Homo sapiens: one gene and its partners. The protein of the gene in region 1 interacts with the protein of each later gene in a pairwise test. Each region holds a gene or a part of one and is shown in the gene's direction. Other genes may lie near its edges.

Evidence for each region.
Region 2: the proteins of WWOX (region 1) and ACY1 interact in binary tests that used the Homo sapiens proteins (3 or more experiments, as listed by UniProt).
Region 3: the proteins of WWOX (region 1) and ATOSB interact in binary tests that used the Homo sapiens proteins (3 or more experiments, as listed by UniProt).

Annotation. Positions count from the first base shown.
Region 1 is NC_000016.10:78,102,643-78,109,661, forward strand, and holds part of WWOX (WW domain-containing oxidoreductase), read left to right. Parts: intron 1-5,780; coding exon 5,781-5,845; intron 5,846-7,019. UniProt on the Homo sapiens protein: Putative oxidoreductase. Acts as a tumor suppressor and plays a role in apoptosis. Required for normal bone development. May function synergistically with p53/TP53 to control genotoxic stress-induced cell death.
Region 2 is NC_000003.12:51,978,895-51,986,543, forward strand, and holds the start of ACY1 (aminoacylase-1), read left to right. Parts: upstream 1-4,640; 5' UTR 4,641-4,695; intron 4,696-5,152; coding exon of another isoform or gene 5,153-5,170; coding exon 5,171-5,264; intron 5,265-6,312; coding exon 6,313-6,377; intron 6,378-6,466; coding exon 6,467-6,571; intron 6,572-6,957; coding exon 6,958-7,052; intron 7,053-7,360; coding exon 7,361-7,437; intron 7,438-7,520; coding exon 7,521-7,610; intron 7,611-7,649. Other genes in the region: protein ABHD14A, read left to right, coding at 1,499-1,734, 1,942-2,124; ABHD14A-ACY1 readthrough (NMD candidate), read left to right, coding at 5,153-5,264, 6,313-6,377, 6,467-6,571, 6,958-7,052, 7,361-7,437, 7,521-7,610. UniProt on the Homo sapiens protein: Catalyzes the hydrolysis of N-acetylated amino acids to acetate and free amino acids.
Region 3 is NC_000009.12:35,105,854-35,112,872, reverse strand, and holds part of ATOSB (atos homolog protein B), read left to right. Parts: intron 1-480; exon of another isoform or gene 481-543; intron 544-1,216; exon of another isoform or gene 1,217-1,306; intron 1,307-1,420; exon of another isoform or gene 1,421-1,604; intron 1,605-1,657; exon of another isoform or gene 1,658-3,213; intron 3,214-3,242; exon of another isoform or gene 3,243-3,668; intron 3,669-4,135; 5' UTR 4,136-4,279; intron 4,280-4,523; 5' UTR 4,524-4,598; coding exon 4,599-5,492; intron 5,493-5,981; coding exon 5,982-6,040; intron 6,041-6,229; coding exon 6,230-6,335; intron 6,336-6,462; coding exon 6,463-6,621; intron 6,622-6,863; coding exon 6,864-6,932; intron 6,933-7,015; coding exon 7,016-7,019. UniProt on the Homo sapiens protein: Transcription regulator that may syncronize transcriptional and translational programs.

The DNA of each region.
Region 1 (7,019 bases):
CTTAACTGTGGGTGTCCCCTCGACCTTGTACTAGTCACCTTGTTTCTCTGCTTCTTCGTGCTTAGCCTTGGCTGTGTACTCCTCCTTGTTGGCCCTGTCTCCCTTGCCCAGGTTGCAGATGTCATGGGGCAGCTTGTTCATCTGAGTGTCCCCAGTGCTTGGCACCCAGAAGCCATAAGATGAGCCCCTGTGGGATGAGTAAATGAATCACCTTGGGAGGGTCAGCCGCAGGCTTCTGTGGGTGGGTGGGTGGTGCACTGGGCCCCAGAGTACAAAGATGCACATGACCCGCTTCCGGCTTCCTAAGCCCACCTCTGCCTCTGGCTCTGTGGGGCGTCTCCTCCTTTGCCACTCAGCCCCAGAGGTGCTTCTGCTTCCCTGCAGGCTTGCCCTGGAGCCTGGCGCTAGGGCCCTGGGGCTCCCTTGCTCCTGCGTGCCCCCTGCGCCTGCCTTCCTGCTGCCTGGCCTTTCTCCCATCTGCTTTCTTCCTGAGTGGCCCCTGGCCAGGGGACTCGGGTGCATACATGGTTTCCAAACGCCTTTCCTCCAGCCCTCCCGACTAGTGTCTTAAATCTCAAGCTGGCCTCTCTGGCTCCGCTGTTTTTTTTTTTTTTTTTTTTTTAATTTAATTTAACTTTAAATTCCGGGATACATGTGCAGGATGTGCAGGTTTGTTACATAAGTAAACCTGTGCCATGGTGACTTGCTGCACTTGTCAACCCATCACCTAGTTGTTCAGCCCCCCGTGCATTAGCTATTTATTGTATACACCAGCTGAGATGCCAGGGCTTGGCTGGCTCTCAGCTGGAGGGCTCACTCTCTGGACCTTGTGTCCGTCCCTGCTGGCCCTCAGTTCTCTGGATCAGGGTTGAAAGGCTGAAATTCTTTGGGTGTTAGCTTAGGATGCCTCTGATCCATCCTAACCCGACATTCCCTTGATCTCTCCTGATCTGTGAGCATCCTGGCCCTTCTTTTCTTTTCAGTTTTAATTTTTGCGCTGGCTCCAACCCCTTTTCATTCCTGACTCTGGAAGTGACACTTGTTTTTCTCTTGGGGTTTGGGAAACTTTGTGGTTGTTCTTTCTAGGAGGCTGCTCTTTGAGTCATTTCTTTTCCATATTGTTTCTCCTACTGTAGCAGGGCCATGGCCAGGGATAGAGGCTGTAGCTCCCACTGAGACCTCGGGGTCTGGTGGAACCCGGTCTTGTGTGGGTGCTGTCGGCCTCTCCTGCTTTCCCACCTGCCTCACGGTTCACTTGTGTGCCTCAAAGGCACACATGTCCTAGCACTCCAAAGCCCACCAGGGTGGGCTCCCAGGGGTGAGGTCGAGGTAGACCGGGAACCCAAGAGAGCTGGTGGGCCTTTCTTCTACCCCTCTCCCCTCACAGTCTCAGAGCAGCCCCTTCATGGGAGATGGGAAGTGAGGGACAAGGTCTCAGTGTCAGAGCCGTCCTTGTTTGCCCTTCCCCGTGCCTCTTATGAAGCTCAGGCCTTTTGGCAGTCAGAGGCCTCAATGGTGCCTGTGTCCACAGGGCTGGCTGTCCTCACCGTGAAGTCTAGATCTCCCTGCTAACTTACACTGTGCTCAAAACACACACACACACACACACACACACACACACACACACACTGGCTGTCCTCACTGTCAACTCTAGATCTCCCTGCTAACTTACACTGTGCTCAAAAAACACACGCACGCACGCACGCATGCACGCACATACACACACACACACACACCCATAGGCTGGCCATGGTGGGAGGCCAAGGTGGGAGGATCGCCTGAGCCCAGGAGCTCGAGGCTGCAGTGGGCTATGATTGCATCACTGTACTCTAGCCTGGGCCACAGAATGAGACCTTGTCTAAAAAAAAATTAACAGAAAACACCCCATACGTGGAAGTGTGGTATTCACATAATATGATGTTCACTTAAATTTGAATCCTTTGGTTTAAGTTTAGATTACTCTTAATTATCTTTTTAAATGACAAGCTCGTTGAAAGAATAAAAAATCAAAGACGGCTTCTATTTAAAGGAGAATAGGAGAATGCTTAGGGGACATGTGTTCTAATTTTCTCTTCATTAAAAAGTCATTTAAGGTTATAATTAAAAAGAACATCTTTTAATTAATTTTTATATTTATTAAAAAAAAGTCTTCTATTGAAAGGTACAGTTCTTAGTTCTTCCCGTGTTAACTCACTCGGTTCTCTATAACCCCAAGAAGTAAGTGCTGTTATTGTCCCCATCTAAACTGTTGAGGAAACTGAGGCATGGGATTAAATGACTTCTTCAAGGGCAGAGTGGCTGGCAAATGGGAGACCCAGAAAACCTTGGCAGTTGGGCTTCAGAATCTTCACGACCAAATTACTCTCTCTGCTTCAGCTGGTTCCGGATTCTTCCCCAGGGATGGTTGTGTCCTGCAGGGGACGGCTGGCAATGTCTGGAGATGCTTTCTGTTGCCACAGCTATGGGACTGGGGTATTGGCATCTGATGGGCAGAGGCCAGTGGTGCCCAAGGCAGCCCCGCAACAAAGAATGATGCAGGCCGGGTGCAGTGGTTCACGCCTGTAATCCCAGCACTTTGGGAGGCCGAGGCAGGTGGATCAGTTGAGGTCAGGAGTTCGAGACCTGCCTGGCCAACATGGTGAAACCCCATCTCTACTAAAAATACAAAAATTATCCCGGCATGGTGGCAGGTGCCTGTAATCCTAGCTACTCAGGCTGAGGCGGGAGAATTGCTTGAACCTGGGAGGCAGAGGTTGCAGTGAGCTGAGATTGCACCACTGTACTGCAGCCTGGGTGACAGAGTGAGACTCTGTCTCAAAAAAAAAAAAAAGAATGATCCAGCCCCAAGTGCCACCAGCAGTGAGAATAAGAAACCCTGATTCAGGCATGTTCTGTGAAAGTCAAGAACGTAGGTTGACAGAGTTTGTTTTGTTTTTTAAATGTCTTTCTGAATAAATAAAAACTGTTCTGAGTGAGTTTTGTAGTTCCTTTGGAAAGTATTCATTCTGTTTGTTTACATTTGTGCGCCTGCTGTGGGCCAGGCATGAGGCTACATGTCTGAGGGCCCAGCTTCACCTTCTAAGGGCTGGGAGGCTCTTTCTATGCCAGCCTGCCTGCCAACAAGGCTCAGCTTCCACTGTTAAGGGTCATTTTGTGGATTTTTTTATTTTTTATTTTTAGGTTGAGTCTTGCTTTTTCGCCCAGGCTGGACTGCAGTGGCGTGATTTTGGCTCACTGCAACCTCCACCTCCCAGGTTCAGGAAATTCTCATGCCTCAGCCACTCAAGTAGCTGGGATTACAGGCATGTGCCACCATGTCTGTCTAATTTTTGTATTTTTAGTAGAGATGGGGTTTTGCCATGTTGCCTAGGCTGGTCTCGATCTCCTGGGCTCTAGCGATCCTCCCGCCTCGGCCTCCCAAAGTGCTGGGATTACAGGCGTGAGCCACCGTACCCCGCCACTCCATGGATTCTTGAGGGCAGAGTTTTTTGGAGCCAGGCTTCAAGCACATTTGATGTGTGCCTATGAGATAAAGACTGCTTTTAATGGCAGGCAAGGAAAATGCAAGTCCATCTCTTAACTTTCTTGAAGAAGCTTGAGACACAGCTCTGCAAGGGGCTGGAAGGTTTCATGTTATTGCCAATGCTTGGTTTATCTGATTGCTGTTGCCATTCATTTTGAAGGAGAAGCAGGAGTTGGTATACCAATATTCCCACTGTGCCAGCAGAGAGCGGGTTATCCTTACTAGAGAGCCAGAGAGTCAGAACGGTTTTTTTTTGTTTTTTTTTTTTTTTTTTGAGATGGAGTTTCACAATTGTTGCCCAGGCTGGAGTGCACGATCTCAGCTCACCGCAGCCTCTGCCTGCCGGGTTGAAGCAATTCTCCTGCCTCAGCTTCCCGAGTAGCTGGGATTACAGGCATGTGCCACCACGCCAGGCTAATTTTGTATTTTTAGTAGAGACAGGGTTTCTCCATGTTGTTCAGGCTGGTCGCGAACTCCTGACCTCAGGTAATCCGCCTGCCTTGCCCTCCTGAAGTACTGGGATTACAGACATGAGCCACCGCGCCCGGCCACAGAGCTGCTTTTTTTTGCAAGTGATATTGGATGGTGGTTGATGTACAAAGTAGGAGTTTGTCCTTGCTACTGATACCGTAGCTGGTACAAGGTTTTAATCGTTCTCCAAGCACTGTCACAGGTGTCATGTGTCTCGCCTTTTCAGCAGCTCTGTGAGGTGGCAGTAGCCCTGAGGAGACTGGCTGGACTCAGCTAGCATGGGCTGCTCAGGTCTTCAGCGTGCTGAGTGAGGCATTCCTGCACTATGACAGAGACCCAGCTGCCAAGACTTTGTCAAACAGACCAGAAGCCAGCAGTTCATGAAAAGACCTTGCTTGCAAGTTGTAGAATTTTTTAGAAAATTCGTGCTCTCTGTATTTATTTTCTGTAAAATAATTGATAGGGAAAGAATGTTCACATCTTATCATCTAGATGTTGCTGATTAAATAATATAACTTTCTGGGTTGGCATGAGTAGGTGAACTTTTAGGAAACGCAGCCTACCCTTCGAATACCTCTTGTAGCACCTGGCTGTTTCCCTTTTGAAATAATTGTATGTTTTCCTGGATACCTTATTACCTGGTGACACGTGTTTCTAGTTATTGACCTATGTTTTTAATTATAACTTTGGGTGGTGGTCTGAAATGAAATGTTAAGTTTGACGCAAAAATAGGACTAGTTTGTGTAACTGATTTGTTCAGAATAACAGCTTACATTTCTCAGAGCTTTTTGTATGCCAAGTGCTATGCGAAACCCTGGATGTACAATATTCTTATAGTAGCCCCTGAGACCAGTGCTAGGATTATTTCCATTTTGCAGATGAGGGGATGGAGATTAAGGAGTGGGGTCACTTGACCAAAGGTGCACAGCGCACAGCTAGATGCCCTATGGGAAGGTCTTACTGCATCTCTTAACTACCTCTTGGGACCAGTTAGGAACCAGTGCTTAATGAAACACTTTGAAGTTACATCTGTGGAAAGAATAAACATTTTAGCTGGGCAAGGTGGCACGGGCTTCTAGTCCCAGCCACTCAAGAGGCTGAAATAGGAGGGTTACTTGAGTCCAGGAGTTCCAGTCCAGCCTGGGCAACATAGTGAGACCCTGATTCTTTAAAAAGAAACACAAATAAATAAACATTTTAAGAGATTATATAAATTAGATATTATGAATTTTGTCCCTACATCGTGGAATAAAACCAAAACAAATACACAGCAAAATGCCTCTAGATTTATTTATTTATTTATTTATTTTTGAGACAGAGTCTTGCTCTGTCGCCAGGCTGGAGTGCAGCGGCGTGATCTCGGCTCACTGCAACTTCTGCTTCCCTGGCTCAAGCGATTCTCCTGCCTCAGCCTCCCGAGTAGCTGGGACTACAGGCACGTGCCACTGTCCCCAGCTAATTTTGTATTTTTGGTAGAGACAGGGTTTCACCATGTTGGCCAGGATGGTCTCCATCTCCTGACCTTGTGATCTGCTCCCCTAGGGCTCCCAAAGTGCTGGGATTACAGGTGTGAGCCACCGCTCCCGACGGCCTCTAGATATTTTGAGTGATTCAGCAAACCTCCTAAAGTTGACCCCGTAGCTGGGGTCACAGTCCTCTTTCTCCTTCTTCCCCCTACTTCCTTCTTATATCTGGCTATCTGGGAGAGAAAAAATTTAATACAATTGATTACTTTTTAGAAGAGTTAATTTTTACTTATTACTGTGGATTTTTTGTTTTTTAACAGTCACACCGAGGAGAAGACTCAGTGGGAACATCCAAAAACTGGAAAAAGAAAACGAGTGGCAGGAGGTTTGTATGTTGTTGTCTAAGGATCTTGGATGGAAGCATTAAGTAGATGAGGAAATGTCACTGGCAGAGAGGTGACAGGTTATTGTGTGTTTAGGGAGGGCTCTCTGGTAGAGAACCAGACTCCCACTCTGAGGAGCTTATGGGATTTGGCAGAAGAAGATGATGAGATCATAGGGTGGAGTGAGGATGATTTCTTACTGGTCTTAAAGTACCAAAATGGCCAGATGTGGTGGCTCATGCCTGTAATCCCAGCACTTCGGGAGGCCGAGGCGGATGGATCACCTGAGGTCAGGAGTTTGAGACTAGCCTGGCCAACATGTTGAAAGCGCATCTCTTCTAAAAATACAAAAATTAGCTGGGCATGGTTGCATGCGCCTGTAATTCCAGCTACTTTGGAGGCTGAGGCACGAGAAGTGCTCAAACCCAGGAGCTGGAGGTTGCAGTGAGCCAAGATCACACCACTGCGCTCCAGCCTCGGTGACAGAGTGAGATGCTGTCTGAAAAATAGCGACAACAACAACAACAAAAACCAGAAAATAATTGAGGCCTTTGATTCACAGTTTATGATGTTTTCCTATCGTTGCAGTGTTTATAAAATTGTTCTTGGCTATACTATGGAATTAAATATATAAGTATTTGGAAATTTCGTAAAGATTACCATGACTTCTAGGTGATTCTGAGATAATGTATGATCCACGGAATAGAAGTATAAGAAAGGGACAGGCACGGTGGCTTGTGCTTGTGATCCCAGCCCTTTGGGAGGCAGAGGTGGGAGGATCACTTGTGCCTGGGAATTCGAGGTGAGCCTAGGCAACATAGTGAGACCCCATCTCAAAAAAAAATATGAGAAGGTTCCTGCCCTTAAGAGGTTTAGGATCCAGCTGAAGAATCAACATGTGCACATGAAAAAAAATGGCCGTGCCCTCTAATGTCATATGAGGTCAGCGTATGAATGACGTTGGGTGCCTGCCCTGCATATACATATGTTCTTTGAGCTCATTCAAGGGAGAATTCCCATGGATTGGCACAACCAGTATGGTTTATAGAGCGATCAGGAATAAAATAGGTTTTCTTCAAAACAAGAGGCAAAAATGTGGAGCCCAGGGTGGGATCAGGGGCCTTCTGCAGCTGTCGCAGTTGGAACATGTGACGAAAGCCAGTTGATGTGACAACT
Region 2 (7,649 bases), on another chromosome or scaffold:
CAGTGTACTTTCTATGGCAAACCATATAGGTTTTGTGTTTTTAAGTACACAAATGATTTATGCTATCATTCTTGTCATTAAAAAAATGAAAAAATGTCGAGTCATAGAGGATTAAAAAATACTAAAAAATAGCAAAGCTCTGAGAGACTGGTGCCGCATTTCTCTCCCTCTCTAAGAAGTTTAGGGGATGCCACACGCTGTTCTGGGTATTCCCACATGTAAAGATGCAGACGATGTAGAGGATTGTCTAGTGGGGGCTGTAAACATGATTGGTATCCTGTCTGCTTAGCACATCCATCTGTAGCTTGGTTTTCTCCCCCTACATCATGTCTCAAGGATCATGCCGGTCCCTACAAACCTCCCTCTTTGTTGTCAACCCTGCAGTGTGTCCCATAGGAGGGATGGACAGGCTTTATTCAGCCATTCCTCTACTGGCGGAGTGCTCAAGCAATATAGTAGCTAAAGCATCCTTGGGCATGCTTCTTTGAGCATGTGAGCAATAATTTCTCTAGGGTAGCTACTGAGGACAATTGATGGGCCAAAGGATGTGTTGTGTTTTGTTTTTTTTTTGTTTGTTTCTTTTTTTGTTTTTTGTTTTTTTTTTTTTTGAGACAGAGCCTCGCTCTGTCACCCTGGCTGGAGTGCAGTGGCTCGTACTCGGCTCACTGCAACCTCCGCCTTCTGGGTTCAAGCGATTCTCCTGCCTCAGTCTCCTGAGTAGCTGGGATTACAGGTGCGCCCCACCATGCCTGGCTAATTTTTGTATTTTTAGTAGAGACAGGGTTTCACCATGTTGGTCAGGCTGGTCTCAAACTCCTGACCTCATGATCCGCCACCTCGGCCTCCCAAAGTGCTGGGATTACAGGCATGAGCCACCGCGCCCAGCTGCCAGGACATGCATTTTTAAATTTAGATAACTACTATCTCACCCTCCAAAAACACTATATGGATTTATCTTCCCATCTGTCATGTATGAAAGTGCCCATTTCCCCATGTCTCCCCCAACACTGGGTATTATTTATTTTTTATTTTATTTTATTTTTTTTTTAGACAGAGTCTCGCAGTCGCCCAGGCTAGAGTGCAGTGGCATGATCTCGGCTCACTGCAGGCTCCGCCCCCCGGGGTTCATGCCATTCTCCTGCCTCAGCCTCCTGCGTAGCTGGGACTACAGGTGCCCGCCACCTCGCCTGGCTAATTTTTTGTATTTTTAGTAGAGACGGAGTTTCACCGTGTTAGCCAGGATGGTCTCGATCTCCTAACCTCGTGATCTGCCCGCCTCGGCCTCCCAAAGTGCTGGGATTACAGGCGTGAGCCACCACTCTCGGCCAAGATATGCTTTTCTAACAGGCATATTACATTACCAGAAAATAGCTTCTGGGCAGTTTTAGGTAGTGTGTGCCAGTGCCAGTGGTCCCCAACTTTTTCCCCCACTGTGGTGGGCAGGAAGTCCTGTGCCCCTTCCCAGTGCCCCTCAGCTGGTACCTGCTGCTGTTCCTAGGTTTTGGGAACTCGGCACCTTCAAAGGAGGCAAGCACAGAGGCAGGGCGGGCAGCGCTGCTGGAGCGGGCGCTGCGGGACCTGGAGGTACAGAATGCCGTGTTGGTGAGCCCCTCGCTGAGTGGCCACTATGCCCTGCCCTTCCTGATGCGAGGCCACCACCAGCTACATGGATTTGTGCCCATCGCACCCACCTCCACCCAGAACTACACCCAGGAGCAATTCTGGGCTGTGAAGGTACTGGGAGAAGGATCTCAAAGGTCCTGGCACCCTGTCTGTGGCTTGGGGGGGTTCAGGACTCAAGTCTTACTTGGAGGGACATGGCCTTATCCCTGACCTTGGATGGAAGAGTTGGATGGTGTTGGGGAAGGCTTCCTAGGAAGTGGCTTGGGGGTCAGAAACTCATCAGGCCCCAAGATCACAGCCCCCTGCCTTGCCCTGCAGACTCCAACCCTTATCCTGTATGGAGAGCTGGACCACATCCTGGCTCGAGAGTCACTGCGGCAGCTCCGCCACCTGCCCAACCACTCTGTGGTGAAGCTACGCAATGCAGGCCATGCCTGTTACCTCCACAAGCCGCAAGACTTCCACCTTGTCCTGCTTGCCTTCCTTGACCATCTACCTTGAACTAACCCACTCCCAGCTCCCAGCCTGGCATGAGCTTGGACAGTCTGGACCGCCACCCTCCCTGAACCAGGGAGACAGCCTCTGGGATTGGAGGCCAGAGGCCAGGGTCAGACCCAGCCAGGACTCCTCATTTCATCTCACAGACACAATAAAAAAGCATATTTGTCCTGCCTGGGAAGTGACAGGTTCCGTTTCCTGGTGTGCTGTGGGAAAGACGGGAGTGGGAGGCAAGTCTGGGACTACTTTGGGCCTGGGAGCTGGAGGGGATGTCCAGCAGTCTGAGAAGGCTAAGAATGCGCCACTTCCTAAGTGCCTGGCCTCACCACTCTGTGCCTGAGTTTCCTTATCTGTAAAACGGGTATGATGGCAACACCTAGGTTGGAGGGTGGTTATAGGACTGAATGAGTCTGGATAACTGAGTACTTGGCCACATAAGGCTGGGGAATTGCTGGTGGGAGGCGGGGTGTATTACTGCTGCTGCATGACCACAGGGATTGGTGGGAAATCCAGGGTCTGGACAGCCAAGCCAAGGAAGTCAGGAACCTAGAGGGTATGGGGAACGCGATTTAACAATTAGCCAGCATTGGCCGGGCGCAGTGGCTCACACCTGTAATCCCAGCACTTTGGGAGGCCGAGGCAGGCGGATCACGAGGTCAGGAGATCGAGACCATCCTGACTAACACGGTGAAAACCCGTCTCTACTAAAAATACAAAAAATTAGCCGAGCGTGGTGGCGGGTGACTTTAGTCCCAGCTACTCAGTAGGCTGAGGCAGGAGAATGGTGTGAACCCGGGAGGCGGAGCTTGCAGTGAGCCAAGACCGAGATCACACCACTGCACTCCACCCTGGGTGACAAAGCGAGTGAGACTCCGTCTCAAAAAAAAAAAAAAAAAAAAAAAAAAAAAAAAAAAAAAAAACCAGCATTAGCTGGGCACTGTGGCTCACATCTGTAATCCCAGCACCTTGGGAGGCCAAGGCGGGTGGATCACCTGAGGTCAGGAGTTCAAGACCACCCTGGCCAACATGACAAACCCTGTCTCTACTAAAAATACAAAAATTAGCCCAGCGTGGTGGCACGCACCTGTAATCCCAGCTACTCTGGAGGCTGAGGCAGGAGAATCACTTGAACCCAGGAGGCGGAGTTTTCAGCGAGCCGAGAAGGAGCCACTGCACTCCAGCCTGGGCAGCAGAGTGAGACTCCATCTCAAAAAAATAAATAGCTAAATAATTAGCCAGCATTGTTATGAGTTAAAGTCTATTTGCCCGCATGAATAAATAGGTAAATAATTAGCCAGCATTGTTGTGAGTTAAAATCTATTTGCCCGCATGACAGAGTGAGACTCTGTATCAAAAAAATAACTAAATAAAGAATTATCCAGCATTGTTATGAGTTAAAGTCCATTTGCCCCCATGTTATGTGTGAGCAGCCAAGACTTAAACCTCAGGAAAGGTGGGACAGAACCCTTCCCACAGCGTGCCTCCTTGGCCTAGAGATTGAAGTCTTTGTCCCTCACCCTTCCCCAAGCTGACTCAGCCCCTGGAGCAGAGGGCAGACCTGGCTGGGAGTACAAAGGGCAGCTGGGGCACAAGTGGGCAACTGCAGCTGTGGCCTGCAGGGGGCCAGTGGTACACCTGTGCCTGTTTAGCCTCCCCCTCTGGTGGCTGCAGAAGAGCCAGTTTCCTCACACTGTCCATCCAGGGTCACAATTACATCCATTCACAGTGACTTCATCACACCCACCCACCATCTCACACTGTCACATACACAATCATATCCACTGATAGACTGCACACGCAGTGGCACGCTTAAACCGTCACACGTGCTCTTGTCCATGCATTCATTCCCATTCTAGGCACTGTCCGGGCTCGGCACGGCCCCGGGCAGAACCTTGCAGGAAGTGGAGCTCACAGCCTCCTGGAGTTCAGTGTGGGCAGACAGACATTGGCCAATAACTTCAGTACAAGTGGAGCTGAGGCGTCAGGGAGGACCTCCCCGAGGGGCTGAGGCCTGCAGTGGGGAGCCGTTGGAGACTTGCCGAGGAGGGCGAGGGCGCAGGCCCAGGGCTTTGCAGCTCTGCATCTTGAGAGCCTCGGGGCGGCCCCCTTTCCTCCCGCCCTATCCGGGGGCTGAAGGAGGAGGCGCCCTTAGGGGACGGGACCGTCCTGAGCTCCCGGCGCATACCTGGGGGCAGGAGTGGCAGGCGTGTCGTGTGGGGCGGGGCGAGCCTGTCAGAGCAGGGCCAGCCCGGAGCTCGCAACTCGCGGGGCGGCGCTGGCCGCGGCGGCCGCTGCCCGGGGACGGGATCCGGATCTAATCCTCCAGTAATCTCGCTGAGGCCCGAACCAGAGGCGGGCGGGGACATCCGCGCCGACGCGGCCGCTGGCGCCGGGACGGCCCTCACTGACGGTCTTCGGTCTCCGCCCCGACATCCGGCCTCGGCCACGTGGTGGGCGGACCGGGGCGGTCCTGAGCCTGCGACCTCGCAGGCGACCTCGCTGGACCCTAAGTCCAGGCCACAGTCAGGGAAGGGCGCTGAGAGGCGAGCGTGAGCCCAGCGACAGGAGAGTGAGGTGGGGGCCCTGGGGAGGGATAGAGGGACTGGGGCTCCGTGGCTTGAAAGCCGGGCAACTGGGAGGCGTTGGGGTTTTTCTTGTTTGTTTTTTGTTTTTGTTTTTGCCTTTTTTTTTTTTTAGGAGGGCGGGGGGAGTACAAGTCTGGGTTCAAACCTTGCTCAGCTACTCTATGAGCTGTCCTTGAACCTCTCTGAGCCTCTCAGCTTTCTCCTCTGTAAAGTGGGCATTCTGAGCACAAACTTCATGGGGCTCTTTTGGGGATTAAATAAGGAAATGTGCTGGAAGCAGACAGCCCAGCGCCTGAAACAGAATGGGTGCTCCTTAATGGGGGCTCCGAAACACGGTATCCTACCCCTGTGGGAAGTCCGGGAGCCGCCGTGGGGACAGGCTGTGTGCAGGAGCTCACCATTTCCAGGGTCTTGGAGGGGTAGTTAGCCATTCACTTTGCCCCCAGCTCACCACGCGCAGCGCCATGACCAGCAAGGGTCCCGAGGAGGAGCACCCATCGGTGACGCTCTTCCGCCAGTACCTGCGTATCCGCACTGTCCAGCCCAAGCCTGACTATGGTGAGAAGACGGTGGTTCCAGAGCCTGTGACGGGGCCTAAGGGACGGGGACTGTGCTCTAAACCAGCCTCCAACCCCTGTCACCCAGCTGAGCCCCACTCTGCTGTCCCAAATGGCTCCCCAACCCCTCCAGCCATTCCCCAAGTAAATAGACTGAGGCAGCCCCTCCAGGTTAGGGAGGAACCCTTTCCCCAGAGACTCTGCTGCTGACCAAGGTTACTCCTGGCAGCTGGTTAAAGAAAAACTTCACCTCACTCTCCAGGGCAGGAGTGGTGGGGGAAGCCTGAGGCAGCCACAGGGAAAGGAGAGGCCCTCCAGAAGCCCACTGGGGCTGGACAAAGGCCACAGCCCTTAGGGAGTCAAGCTTGGTGGCTAGGGCCTGGGAGGTGGCTCCTGCCTGTTATCCCAGCACTTCAGGAGGTTGAGGCTGGCAGATTGCTTGGGCCCAGGAGTTCAAGACTAGCTTGAGCAACATGGCAAGACTCTGTCTCTACAGAAAAAATACAAAAATTAGTCAGGAATGGTGGCACACCTGTAGTCCCAGCTACTCCAGAGGTTGAGGTGGGAGGATCGCTTGAGCCTGGGAGGTTGAGGCTGCAGTGAGCCGAGATCGCACCACTTCACTCCTGCCTTGGTGACAGAGTGAGACCCTGTCTCAAAAAAAAAAAAAAAAAAAGGAAAAGAAAAAAAAAAAACTTAGTGGCTGGGAATTGTGTACATGGGTCCAAATTCCTCCTCTGTGATTAATCAGCTGAGAGATGGTGGGTGAATCTCTTCATGTCTCTGTGCCATAGTTTCCCATATTTAAGGAAGATAACACCTTCCTCCAACCCTGTGTCCAGACATCCCCCTGGACTTCCAGAAAGGGTCACTGAGTAGCCAAAAATATCTTCTTTCTTGGGGATGGAAATGCAAGCATCTCTGAGGGATATGGAGTGTGTCGGGGAGGCAGCAGCCCATTTCTGGGTATGCTCCACTCTCCGGGCTGCCTGGGCTGGTGGGAAGCTGTGGGTAGGCAGAAGCAGCCCCAAGACACTCTGTGCCTCCAGGAGCTGCTGTGGCTTTCTTTGAGGAGACAGCCCGCCAGCTGGGCCTGGGCTGTCAGAAAGTAGAGGTGAGCCTGGGGCCCTAAGCGGGGAAGGGAGGTGGGCCTGGGCACTTCCTCACCCTGCTCAGACCACCTACCCTCCTGACCATCTCCAGGTGGCACCTGGCTATGTGGTGACCGTGTTGACCTGGCCAGGCACCAACCCTACACTCTCCTCCATCTTGCTCAACTCCCACACGGATGTGGTGCCTGTCTTCAAGGTGTGTAAGGGGCTGGGGAGGTGGGCAGTGCAGGCCTTGGGGACAGACATGATGCAGACCCCAGGATTCAACCTCAAGTTGCTCATGGTCCTGGCCCCAGTCCTGACACTAACTCTCAACATCCTTATGACATTACACCACTCAAGCAGCCTTCATCCAGCAGCAAGTTCTGGGCCAGAGTGGGGTGGGGACTGGGGGGTGGGAAGCAGGAGACAGCAATGGGGGATGGCAATCAGCTGCCTTCTTCAGCCCCCGTCTTTCCTCTCCCACCACTCCACCTGTCACTCCAACCCTATGGTGGGCTCCTAGGGCAGGGCCACTGTTGACCAGAGTGGATTAATGGCTAAATTTGGGGTTTGGGCCCCTCTTCCCATCCCTGCCCCCAGGAACATTGGAGTCACGACCCCTTTGAGGCCTTCAAGGATTCTGAGGGCTACATCTATGCCAGGGGTGCCCAGGACATGAAGTGCGTCAGCATCCAGTGAGTGTCCTCCATTCCTACTCCTCCACAATGTCCCCACTGGTCCAGTGGATTGAAGCAGGACCTGAGGGGGTGATTGGAGAAACTCAAGGCCAAGGAACACCGTGACCTCTTGGACAGGAACTACTGCCATGACCATTGCATGGATAGGGAGATTCAGACCAGAGAGGGGCAGGGACTTTCTGGAGTCCCTATCAGGGTGTGGCAGGGTAAAGTCCAGGACACAGGACTCCAGCCTGCTGGCCCTGCCTGTGGGGCCAGCCTGCGCATCTGGTGGCTCCCCCAGCACCTGGCTTATGCCCCCTCAGGTACCTGGAAGCTGTGAGGAGGCTGAAGGTGGAGGGCCACCGGTTCCCCAGAACCATCCACATGACCTTTGTGCCTGGTAGGAGTGGCTCAGATACCTTTGGGAAAGGGGAGGGTGGGGCGGGGCAGCCTCCTCATCTCACGTCCCTGCTGCTTTTACAGATGAGGAGGTTGGGGGTCACCAAGGCATGGAGCTGTTCGTGCAGCGGCCTGAGTTCCACGCCCTGAGGGCAGGCTTTGCCCTGGATGAGGGTGAGCAGGTTGGCAAGCCAATGAGCAGCCAGGCAGGGA
Region 3 (7,019 bases), on another chromosome or scaffold:
TACTATCTAGTGATATAACCTCAGGGCCCTGGGGGGTCCACAGCACAGGCAAGGCAGAAACAAGGACCTTGGGCTCTCTGTGGCCTCTGAACTGTAGAAGAATGGACTTTCCCTCTTTGGCTCTGGTGTTTGCCTCCTGCTTCTGTGAAGGACCGGGAGAAAAAGCCTCCTAAGTCCCAAATTATCCGACTTGCTGACAAGTGCAGAGGGCAGGGTAGACAGGACTATTGCTTTTCTTAGTTTACCTCTAGAGTACCCTCTAGAAAGTGTCTTTGAATGCTCAATCCTTGCAAAGGTTTCCATCCTGGTCATTTAAAGAATAGGAGGACAAGGGTTAGGGATGCCGGTTCTGCTGCCATTTGATTTGACTGGGTCTGAACTGGGCTGGGGCCCAGTGACTCAGTGGGAGGGTGGATAGTTTTGAGGGAGCTGTGAGTCATGGGGTTGAGCTCCATCACAAGAGTTGGGCTCATTTCCCCCATTCTGGGCAGAAGCTCTCCTATCCCACTTCCCTGTATGCTCTGTCTCCTTGAACATGGGCCTGTGAGTAGAAAGAGTGCTGGCAGGCTGATCTCAGAAAGGGAGTTCAGAGGCACAAAGAATAATGCTGGTCCCTGAGATTAAAATGTATCCCTATCTTAGGAACCCGTGGGGCTCCTCTAAAGAAGGCAAAAGAACATCAATTTAAGAGTAACAGAGGGAAAAGTACCACTTCTTAACATGGAAGGAGATAGGGTCCCACCTCAGGCCTTTTTCTTCTCTGGCATGGAGGAAGCTTCCTGGGCTTCACTAGTTCTCCAGCTCTGAAGCTTTGGTTTGGAAGGTGGGGAAAGACAAATGGGAGTGAGGTATTTGGGGTCTGGGGTCTGGTATAGACAGCAGGCAGACTTTGAGGGTTGTCAAACCGTATCTTTAAAGCCCTCGGGCTTCCTATTAACCGTCCTGGAAGGAGGAAGGGCGGGGGAGTAGGGCGGAGGGGTAAGATGTGGAAGGCCTACGCCTTTGAAAGGGTTAAATGGCAGGGCAGGGTGTTGCTTTGGACTCCGGCAGCTGTCGGGTTAAGGAGAAGGGCGGAGCGACCTTGGGTAAGCCTACCCCCTTATGGACCAATAGGCGTGTGCCTCTTGGAGGGGGCGTGCCTCGCACTTGAGGTCGCGGGGAGGCTGGCTTCCTATGGACCAATGAGCATGGTCGCTTTCCAGGGAGGGCGTAGCCTGAGGGGGGCGTGGCGGCCGTGGCCGCCGCGGCGCGGGTGGTGGGGCACTGGGCGGGGCGGGCGGCCCCATCAGCTGGTAGGAAATGGCCTGTGAGTCAGAGGGGCAGTGGAGTCGGCGGCGCGGAGCCGGGGCGGCCCCGGGGAGGGACCGTCGCAGGGAGGGGCGCGGCAGCGGCTGGGGGGCTGCGGGCGCCAGGGCCCGCTAGTGTTGCACACGAAGCTGAACAGCGAAGAGCCTAGCAGAGCAGGGCTCAGCCTGAGCCACCCTTTGTCTGGGTTGGGGGCCCGTGGCAGGGAGGACCGGGGAACCAAGGGGAGGGACCGGGACGGGACGGGACGGAAGGGCCCGGAGCAGCGGCCACCTCCGCGGAGCCAATTTGGGAGCGGGGTGAGTGTGCTAGAGGGAAAGAGCAAATCTCCGAAGCTCCAGTATAGTATGGGGCCTGTCCCAGGCTGTGGGGAGGAGAGGAGTGAGAAGGGACCTGGGAGGCTGGGCAGGGGGTAAGGGATCGTCCAGAAGAAGGAGTCCAGGAGTCAGGTGAGTCTGCCTGGCTTAGTTTAGAGAGTCTGCTAAGGTCTGCTCTCTCCCCTCTGAAGATAGAGGGCTCTAGGCTGGGGGCCGAGGGGTTGGTAAGAGAGAAGAAGTCGACCTTCCTACCCACAGTGGTGGTCCGTGGGAACAGCCCCCCTAGCTTGTGTGGATGTATGTAGGGACAAAATAGAGAGCAGCTGGCAGCAGTTCTCTTTGCATAGGATGAGGGTGGAAAGCACATGGATAGGAATTCATCCTGTCACTCTCCTTGATCATGGTAGAAATGGAAATCTTTAATACTGAAGGGAAGGGGAGAATGAGCCTTGAAGCTGATACCTATACCAATACCCACCTCACCCACCTCCCAGGCCTCAAAAGTGTCTAAAGGTACAGACGTATTCTGGGACTTGTTGTTTTTGCTGGCCTTGCTCCCTCAGCATGTTGGGAGCTGTAGTCCTTGCCAGCCACAGCCTGGCACAGCTGTTTGATGCCAGCTGCTGCCCACCCCCTGAACGAAGAGTGAGGCTTGGCCTACTCTGCCCTGCCCCCCTCCCCTGCAGTCCTGCCCCATGAGTCAGCTTGAAGCCATGGTCTAGAGCCAGACTGGCTGGGTGGCAGGGGAGTGAATATAGAGCGTCTTGTTGACAGGGTGGGAACTGAGAGGGCTCTGGGGTTAATAAGCAGATGCCAGGTATGCTGGGGTCAAGTAGGGCATCATGTCATCCCCTGGCTTCCCCAGGGCAAGGGGTCAAGAGGGCAACTGGGATGACCTGGAAGTGGTGGTGCTAGGGAAAAGGCCCCTCCTGAATCTGTATGGCTTGGGTGGAGGAAAGAAGGGTAGAAATTAGTGCAGGTTGTACCTTCTGACAAGGTTGGTTGCAGGTAGGATAGTGCAGGTTGCGATTGGTGTTCTGCCCTTTCCAGCCATCCCGCCCACCACAGGGAACCAGGATTTTCTTAGGGATCCCAATTCTTAGGAGAATTTGGTGAAATGGGATAGTGGGGTACAATGATGGGAACTTGGTGTAGGAGAGCTTTTCAGTCCCTGGGTACAAATCTCTCCTTTCTGCCTGCTCCCCACCCCCACCTCTGTTCCTGATTTTCCCTTGTACAATTAATCTCTCTGCTTCTCTCATCTGGGAAATTTTTCTCTCCACTCTCAGGACTGCTGCTCAGATGTCTGGGACTTGCATTCTACTTTTTTTGAGCCCTGCTGTGTGCTTACCCCTGTACTTGGGGTTGGATGGAGGGGTGGGACACAGATCTGTCCTCAGGAACTCTATGGTCGGTCTAGAAGATGCCTTACCCACAGGAGTGAGCAGAACTGTTAGTGAGCTTACAGGAAGTAGTAACACTGCCATAGGTGAGGTCTCAGAGAAGGGAGAGATGCTTATGGTCTGGGGTGGACAGAGCAGACTTTCTGGAGGAGATGGCATTTGACCTATCCAAGGAGGAAAAGTCTTGGGTAGGCATTCAAAGGGCACTTCTTGAAGGGGAAAGAGCACCGTGAATGTCAGACAGCAAAAGAGAAGGCTGACCCTGGGGGCAGCTGGCTTTCAACTTGACATTCCCCTCACCCTAGTATGGGCTGGAATAGTTAGTGAAGACCATCTTATGCACCCGTGGTTTGGGGTTTTGGTGTTGGGTGTGTGAGCACTGGGGGAGGGGCGTGGAGAGGTACTCCCTAGTTGCTTCCAGCTGACTGACTGCTGCGGCCTTATCTCTAGTTTGCAGGGCCTTGCGGGAGGGCCCTGGAAAGTGCCTTCTGGCAGTGACCCCTTCCCCTTCCCCTTCTTGTTTTTGGTCGGATTTGTTGCCTCTTGTTAAAGAGACAGGCTGCTGGAGGCAATTTGGAGTTCAGGGCTGAAAGGCCAGCTCTGAGCTGACTTGAAATTTGTACCTCTGAGGACCGCTGATGGGGTATAACTGTGTGGGAGACCTCTGCCCTTAGTGCCCTAGGATGGCACTTGTCCCTTTGGAGATAGACATATAAGAAGGAGTTGTGCAATTTGGTGGCTTTGAGTAAGAAAGCTGAATTCTTCCCCTGGCCGCCTCTCAGCTGACACGGTCTCTTGGATCTTGGGGGTCTCTCATCCCTTCCTCCATGTAGGGCAGGAGTCCTCAAATGGTGGCCCTGACAAGTAGTTATTCTACCTCAACTCACTTGTCACATCCTTATTATACTGAGCCAAGACCTGCCTCTTTGACTCCTTAGGTAGCCCAACTCTGCCATCTGTGCCCTGGACCCCAAGCCTACCCTTTCTGTTCCTGAAGAGCCTCTCACATGGGAGAAGGATGTCCTGGAGTGTACTATTAGCCTATAATTGGTGACAGGCCTTACCGCTGGCTCCAGTGATCCTGGCTTACGTCTGTTCTTCTCTCCTCAGGGTCCTGCTGAGCTCAGGAGCTGCACGGAATGGTGGCAGTCACCTTGCCAGTGCAGCAGGCATGGATCAGACTGCAAGCTAGGGGCACGAGGCATCAGTTGGGAAGAGGGGACGCACAGCTAGGCTTGAGGCCTCTTCATCGGGGTAAGTACCAGGGAGAAGAGGGGGAAGTGTGTCCAGTAAGAAGCCTGAGCTAAACCTGTCACCCTCTCAGGAGTTCTGAGAGTGGTCTCTATATTCCATTAGTCCATCCAGGGATTTGTACACATTCATCCTTGGGAACCCATCAAAGTCACCCCTTTAGGCAAGGAGAGGGTCTGAAACTCAGCTGGAAGGAAGAAGACTCATTGATTCCCCTGACCACCTTTTCTTCTCTTCTCTTACACAGATGTCCCCAGGCCCCCCAGCCCAGGCCCAGCATAAAGGCCGTGTTGGGGGGCCCCCCTGACCCAAGGGGGGCTTCATGCGCCACGTGCAGGCGGAGCCGTCTCCATCCTCAGAGCCGGAGGCTGGCCCTTCACAGCCTCCAGTCAGGCAGGGGGCCCTCCAGGGTGGCCTGCTCATGGGCTACAGCCCAGCAGGGGGGGCGACATCCCCCGGGGTCTACCAGGTATCCATCTTTTCCCCTCCGGCTGGTACCTCTGAGCCTCATAGGGCCCTGAAACGACAAGCCCCATCCACTGAGGGTCCCCGGGAGCTGAAGAGAGGCCCTGGGCTGGGGGCCAGAGAGGGACTACCCCCTGAAGAACCATCTACTGTGGGGCTCTTAGGCCCAGAGGGACCGGGGCTGGGACTAGGTGTGGCCAGCCAGCATTTCTCCCACCGTGGCCTCTGTGTTGTGGAACAGAGAAGTAGTGTCACCTCATCTTGGACTTCGGGGGCCTGGAGTCCCCCCTGCCCCCCATCAAATGCTTCCTGCAATACTTTGCACACCAGAGACTGGGCCTCCCCAGATCCAGGGGGACAGGGGTCCCTGGGGGAGTCCCCAGGGCCAGCCCCTCCAGGCCAGCTGCACACACTTGACACTGATTTGCACAGTCTTGCACAAATAGGGGGTAAGAGCCCAGTGGCTGGGGTGGGCAATGGGGGTAGCCTCTGGCCTAGGGAGTCCCCTGGCACTGCCAATGGGCACAGTCCCGAGCACACACCCCCTGGCCCTGGACCCCCAGGCCCCTGCCCCACCAAGCGAAGGCTGCTTCCTGCTGGAGAAGCCCCAGATGTCAGCTCTGAGGAAGAGGGGCCAGCCCCTCGGAGGCGCCGGGGATCCCTGGGCCACCCTACTGCTGCCAACAGTTCTGATGCCAAAGCCACACCCTTCTGGAGCCACCTGCTGCCTGGGCCCAAAGAGCCTGTTTTGGTAAGCCAATAAAGGACCTCATTTACTCTTTTTTTACTTTTTTTTTTTTTTTTTTTTTTTTGAGATGGGATCTCACTCCATCACTGCTGGAGTGCAGTGGCACAATCTCAGCTGACTGCAACCTCCTCCTCCCAGGCTCAAGGGATCCTCCAACCTCAGCCTCCCAAGTATCTGGGACCACAGGCACATGACATTGCACCCAGCTAATTTTTGGTATTTTTGGTAGAAATGGGGTTTCGCCATGTTGCCCAAGCTGGTCTCGAACTCCTGAGCTCAAATCATCGACCCACCTTGGCCTTCTAAAGTGTTGTGATTACAGGCGCTCAAGCCACTGCGCCTGTCCTTCATGTACTCTTAAGTGGATATTTGTGTGGGTAAAGGTGGAGGCCTGGGGGGCAGGGTGTTCCTTTGAGAGTTTGTGATGAGCTTCTGCCCCAAAACATACATGGCCTTCACCCTGTGTCTTTTCCCAATCATTTCTCTCCGTAGGACCCAACAGACTGCGGTCCCATGGGGCGGAGGCTGAAAGGAGCCCGTCGCCTGAAGCTGTAAGTGACCAGCTTTTTCCTCTACCCTGTCCCTGAGAATGGGGGCAGAAGTCTGTACTCTTTCCAGCATCCGAGTAGGGGACCCCAGGGCAGAAGCCCTACATAGTGGCAGAGGGTGGAGTCCAAGGGCATAAGCAGGAATCCCAGAATACCTCAAGCCAACCCCCTGTGTTTCCCTTCCTCTACCAGGAGCCCCCTTCGAAGCCTCCGGAAGGGGCCAGGCCTGCTGAGCCCCCCCAGTGCCTCCCCTGTTCCTACCCCTGCTGTCAGCCGTACCCTGCTGGGCAACTTTGAGGTAGCTCCCGTTGGGGTTTGTGATTGCCGGGGTCCTGGGAGAGGTGGGATGGTGGAATGTGGCTTGGATGGATAAGGAAAAGAATTGGCATCTCTCTCTTCATGTGTTTTCCCTACCCTAATCCCAGGAATCATTGCTGCGAGGACGTTTTGCACCATCTGGCCACATTGAGGGCTTCACAGCAGAAATTGGAGCTAGTGGGTCATACTGCCCCCAGCACGTCACGCTGCCTGTCACTGTCACATTCTTTGATGTTTCTGAGCAAAATGCCCCGGCTCCCTTCCTGGTATGCCTTGACTCCAACCCCAAAGTCAGCTCATCAAGAGGATGAGGATTTGGGGGCGGGGCCAGGGGGCAAGAGGTATTTCTTACTTATTCCTCACCTAGAAGTGAGTCAGGGCCAGGTGAGGAGAACTCTACTGTAGGGCAGGGGCAGGTTCAGGGTGAGAGCTTGTGGAGAGGGACATGTGTTTAGGGCCCAGGGTTTTCCTAGTCCCCACCTTGACTGATGGCTCCCTGGCCTTCCAGGGCATCGTGGATCTGAACCCCTTGGGGAGGAAGGGTTACAGCGTGCCCAAGGTGGGCACCGTCCAAGTGGTGAGTTTGCCCTGAGGGAGTGGGAGTGGGGAGAGAGGAAAGCAGCCCTCAGGCCCTACCAACCTTGACTGTCCTGTCCCTAGACCT